Regions from separate parts of the Homo sapiens genome. Here region 2 is linked to region 1. The links come from fine-mapping of genetic effects on gene expression. Tissue or cell type: whole blood. Region 1 holds a variant in brackets; the other region holds the start of a gene. All regions are shown on one strand. Distances are between the middles of the regions.

Evidence for each region. PIP is the estimated chance that this variant, and not a neighbour inherited with it, causes the effect.
Region 2: it holds the start of SCLT1, and the variant in region 1 is fine-mapped to the expression of SCLT1 in whole blood (TOPMed, PIP 0.90).

What each region holds. Positions count from the first base shown.
Region 1 is chr4:129,005,316-129,008,083 of GRCh38, forward strand. All of the region lies in intron 5 of SCLT1 (sodium channel and clathrin linker 1), which reads right to left. Among named protein-coding and RNA genes, the nearest start is that of SCLT1, 87 kb to the right of the region's middle. The variant G/A (reference allele first, on the strand shown) is at 1,080.
Region 2 is chr4:129,092,202-129,094,969 of GRCh38, forward strand. SCLT1 (sodium channel and clathrin linker 1) reads right to left here and starts at 1,338. Exons shown (of 21, transcript NM_144643.4): 1 at 869-1,338. The coding sequence starts at 902. It also overlaps a transcript of C4orf33 not described here. RefSeq lists an enhancer at 1,033-1,602.

The DNA.
Region 1 (2,768 bases):
TAAAATTAATATTTAGTACACTGTACTTTAAAATATCAGAAACACTGAGAATTAAAGTGTCTTATTTCTTTGTTACGCAGCCAAAAGACACATGAAAAAATGCTCATCATCACTGGCCATCAGAGAAATGCAAATCAAAACCACAATGAGATATCATCTCACACCAGTTAGAATGGCAATCATTAAAAAGCCAGGAAACAACAGGTGCTGGAGAGGATGTGGAGAAATAGGAACACCTTTACACTGTTGGTGGGACTGTAAACTAGTTCAACTATTGTGGAAGTCAGTGTGGCAATTCCTCAGGGATCTAGAACTAGAAATACCATTTGACCCAGCCATTGCATTACTGGGTATATACCCAAAGGACTATAAATCATGCTGCTATAAAGACACATGCACACGTATGTTTATTGCGGCATTATTCACAATAGCAAAGACTTGGAACCAACCCAAATGTCCAACAATGATAGACTGGATTAAGAAAATGTGGCACATATACACCATGGAATACTATGCAGCCATAAAAAATGATGAGTTCATGTCCTTTGTAGGGACATGGATGAAATTGGAAATCATCACTCTCAGTAAACTATCGCAAGGACAAAAAACCAAACACCGCATATTCTCACTCACAGATGGGAACTGAACAATGAGAACACATGGACACAGGAAGGGGAACATCACACTCTGGGGACTGTTGTGGGGTGGGGGGAGGGGGGAGGGATAGCATTAGGAGATATACCTAATGCTAAATGACAAGTTAATGGGTGCAGCACACCAGCATGGCACAGGTATACATATGTAACTAACCTGCACATTGTGCACATGTACCCTAAAACTTAAAGTATAATAAAAAAAATTCATTTAATAAAAAAATGTAGTTATAACAAGCAGTATAATTATAACTGACAGTAAGACAGTTTTTAGGGTCTTAAAATTTTTAGCCAGGTTCGGTGGCTCACACCTGTAATCCCAGCATTTTGGTAGGCCGAAGTGGGTGGATCACGAGGTCAGGAGTTCGAGACCAGCCTGGCCAATGTGGTGAAACCCCGTCTCTACTAAAAATACAAAAATTAGCC[G/A]GGCATGGTGGCGTGTGCCTGTAGTCCCAGCTACTCAGGAGGCTGAGGCAGAAGAATTGCTTGAACCCAGGAGGCGGAGGTTGCAGTGAGTCAAGATCAAGCCACTGTACTCCAGCCTGGGCGACAGAGCAAGACTCTGTCTCAAAAAAAAAAAAAAAAAATTTAAAGGTCACAGAAATATCGTAATTGTCCCCCATTGATTATTAAGATAATTTTGTACAGTTTCAGCTTGCAAGGTCATTTTTTTAATCTTACACTTCATACAAAGGAAGGACTACCTATACATAGTTTAATTTTGTTTGCTTCAGTATCTGGCATACTTGGGGAATAGATGTCCAATCTTGCGTTTCTAATGCTTGCTGTCTCTCACCGAGTGTGCTCTGTTCCCGAGGTGTTATATGATTTTGGGTTTAGATTGCTGTTCTTTTTCTAACCTCTTCAACAAATTCTAAGACATCATTATTTTTAGACTTTCTTTTCTAATACATACTCTTAAGATTACAGCTTTCCCTCTAAGAATCGCCTTAGTGGCAACGCCGACGTTATGTTATTTTCTTTATTAATCAGTTGAAAATATTTTCTAACTTCCATTGTGAGTTCTTTGACCTGTGAGTAACATTTAGAGGCATACTGCTTAACTTAGAAAAAGCTGAGGATTTTCTAGTTACCTTTTTATTATTGATTTCTAGCATAATTTTCACTGTCATCAAAGAACATAATCTGAATAATTTCAATCCTTTTATAATCTGAGAGTTGCTTTTTTTTTGAGTTGGTCAATTTCAGAAAACTATCACGTGTACTTAGAGAATGCATATTTTGAAGGTCTTCGGTATTAGTATTCTATATATGTCCCTTAAGAGATTTCTTAATTGCATTATTCAAATATTGCATCTTAACTTACTGTTTTTTTTTCTGGTTGCTATTTTATTTACTGAGAGCAACCTGCTCATATTTCCTATTATAATGGTGCATTTGTCTGTTCTGCCATTCAGTGCTATCACATTTTTGTATTCTGAGTCTTTGTTATTGAGTGCTTACACATTCAGAACTGTCATATCTTTTGGGCAAATATAATTTCGTATCATTATGGAAACCGCCTTTTAATCTGTAATCATCTGTTTCACATTAAATTCTACTATGTCTGATATTACCAGCATGTTTTCAGTTAGCACTTCCATGGTATACATATTTTCTATCCTTTTATTTTCACCCATTCTGTACTCTTGTATTTTACGAATCTCCTTGGTTAAAAGCATGTAATTGTGGGTTCATTTAGTTAATCTCTGGTAAATCACTCTTAAAATTATAGCATGTAGTACAGCAAAATTTAATGCAATTACTAAGGCATCTGGGTTTATATCTACTACCTTAGTATTTCCTATATGTCTTGACTTTAAAAAAACAAAACAAAACACCTCTCTTTTTGTTCCTATTCTTTCTTATTAACTGGAATTAATTACATTTTATTATTCCACTTTCCTGCTCCATGAGCTTGGAAGTGATAGAATCTTTTAGTTTACTGTAGTGCTCAGCCCAGACATCGTAACATGCCTCTGAGAATTGCCACCCTCTACTATAAATTAGTATCCTATTTCTAATGGATAATGTAAGCACCTGAGACTATCTCAACTCCATTTACACTCTTCCTAAATGTACGGTATTGCTGGCTCATATTTCAAGTCTCCTCAA
Region 2 (2,768 bases), 87 kb after region 1:
GGGCCCTTCACCATCCAGCCCCTTTCTACGCCTTCAACTGCACTTGCCATTTCCCTATATAAATATTCCAATTCAATTTACATCAATATTACACTCAAACCAGCCGTATTGCAAGTCTTTAACAAAGCATATTCCTAATCCCCTCAGTGTCACAAATATTGTTCTATTTGGGATGCCTAGAGTTTTTCATATAGTAAATTCATATTTGTACTGCACGTTTCAGCCCAATAGCACCTTCCTTGAACATATTTTAATAATAATCGTGTAATAGTTAATATTTGTTTAACACAATGTATCAGATACTATTCTAAATCCTTTACATATTTTAATATTCATTTAATCTTTCCAACAACCCTATGAGACTGTGGCAAAAGAGCCAGCAGTTGCTGTCACTTCAATATATTTTGGAATACATTTCCCTCCCCAAATTAAATTCTTGGAGGTAAAAACTGTCCTGTTTATCTTTGCAGCAGCTGTTCTTCCATAGTGTCTGGTACATAATAGAAACAGGAGTTCAATAAACATCTTTTTAATAAATGGCCAGAGAGCTGTGCCCCTAGATTTTAAATGCACACTTGGAAACTCCTGCTGGCCATTAGCCTTCTAATCTTCAGAGCACGAGAGGAGCATAACAAACATGTTTAGCGTCTAGTAGAATTCTGTGTAAGCTACAAGTACTACCACACGGTTCTGCTTAAATATACACACATCCTCACGTATAACATCAAGGTTTTTTTTTTCCTGCAACTAACTTCTTTAACTCTTTACCAATTTAAATGTACCCAACCAGCATTCAAAAAAGATTTGTCGGTCAACGACGACGATATTAAACATTGTATATGAAGTCTCAAAAAAACATGGAGCTTACTTTGCTCTCTCAGAAAGTCGATTTCTGCAGCCATTTCGATACAATTTTAGTTTAGAGCTTTCACCACCTTTACCTTCCTCTGAAAGACAGAGAGCTTGCTGTGCGGGAAAACAAAACTAAGCCAACGCTCGGTTGGTTGTCAAGCGCTCCAGCGGTGCAATCTGCATCCTACTCACGCGGCATCTACAGCCCCGCCACGCTTCTTTCCCCCGCGCCCCAGACGAGTCCCTGGCCCTGGTGAGAGACTGAAGATTGCTGGGGACTCCACGTTCAACCGAATCCCACGCTGGTGGGAAGAGGACGCGGTCGATACAGGCGTCCCGCGGGTCACTCTGGGTCTCGTCGGGCCACCTAGGAGAGTGCCGCGGGAGCTTGACGGCAGCCTGAGAGCGGCGTTCTACGCGGAGCGGCGGGGGTTGGAGAGGACAACGCCAAGACGGCTGGGAAGCCCCAGGCCAGCAGCGGAAGTCCACTCGGCCCGCCCTGCGACTTTGAAACCGGTGCCCCGGACCACTCCTTGGAGACGGTGGCGCCTCTTGCGTCATCACGCGGGCGTTGGAGCTTACGCCATCGCGCGTCCTAGAGTCCTAGCACGCTATTGGCTGGCTGTCAAGCAATGGGAGGAGTCGTGAGAACCTGGATGACAGCGGGCTGAGCCACCGGCTTGGCGCGGCGGCCAAACTGGTGGGACAGTGTCTCCAGGTAGTGAGGCCCAACCTCTTTAAAACAAACAAACAAACAAACAAAAAACCAAAATGCAAACGTGAGTAGAGAATGAAATACACAGTTTAAATGCCCTCACTATCTTTGGGTTACTAATATACTAAGCCTTTCTGGACTAAGTAAAAGATGCAGGTTCCTGCGGCTAGGGATAGAAGCCAGACTGGCGTCTTCAGAATCTCCCACCAAGGCTGTACCTCTGGAGGAGTTCTAGGTTTGGATTTGGTCATCTCAAGAAGGTAAGTACCTTCTCGGTCTTTGTGGGTCTTTAGACAAAGGAGACAACTGTTGTTTAAATATTTAACTGTGTAGTAATAAAGCGTGTAGTTAGAAGTACTCAAAAGATCTTGCAAATTCAGCAGCTACTTCTTCAAAGATAAGCTTGTTTCCTCAAATATAAGGAAAGATAAAAGGTACTTTTTTTTGCAAAAAACAAAACGGTAAAACTTACATTTGTGGATAGATTACAATTTTCATTTTTGAAAATTAATTTTGTCTGGACTTAAAACGTATTTTTTTAAAAAAAATCATTTAACATTAGAGGAAATCTCACCACTAGCAACAAAAATGTTAACTTGAAGCTAGCCACTAGTTTTGTGCTTTTAATAAATTGTATTTTTATGGACTGAAGTAAAGTTTCACTAAACAGGCATGTCATAGATGCAGCTTGATTTGGCTTTCTGTTTAACGGCTTAAGAGTTTTGTTGTCCCGTACTCATAATGTCATATAAACAAAGTAACCTTAGCGATATGTGTTAAGAAATTTTAAAAATGTATTCAAATATATGCAGTTAGGCATCTGAAGGCCTTACTCAATACTCACTGTTAATAGAATGAGATGGTCCCTTCCTCTAAAGACTAGCTGTTAAATATGGATGTGTAGCTTAATAATCATTGAAAAGGTCTAATCCAGCTTTGAGTTGGTGATAATTGAACTTGTTCTGATTTTTAGTAGCTATAACGTTTACACAAAAACTTTTTGTATAAACGTTATAGCTAAGGGAAAATTGAGTGTGCAAGGTCCAACTCGTTTTTGAAGTTCAGTATATGACTCTTTCTTCATAAACATCTCACTGACTCTCCAAGGACTTGCTTGTAACTTCTCCCACATTTGAACCTTGTATATTGTCGTATTTCTACTTGGCATCAAATAAATAATTATAGACTTAACTCTACGCTT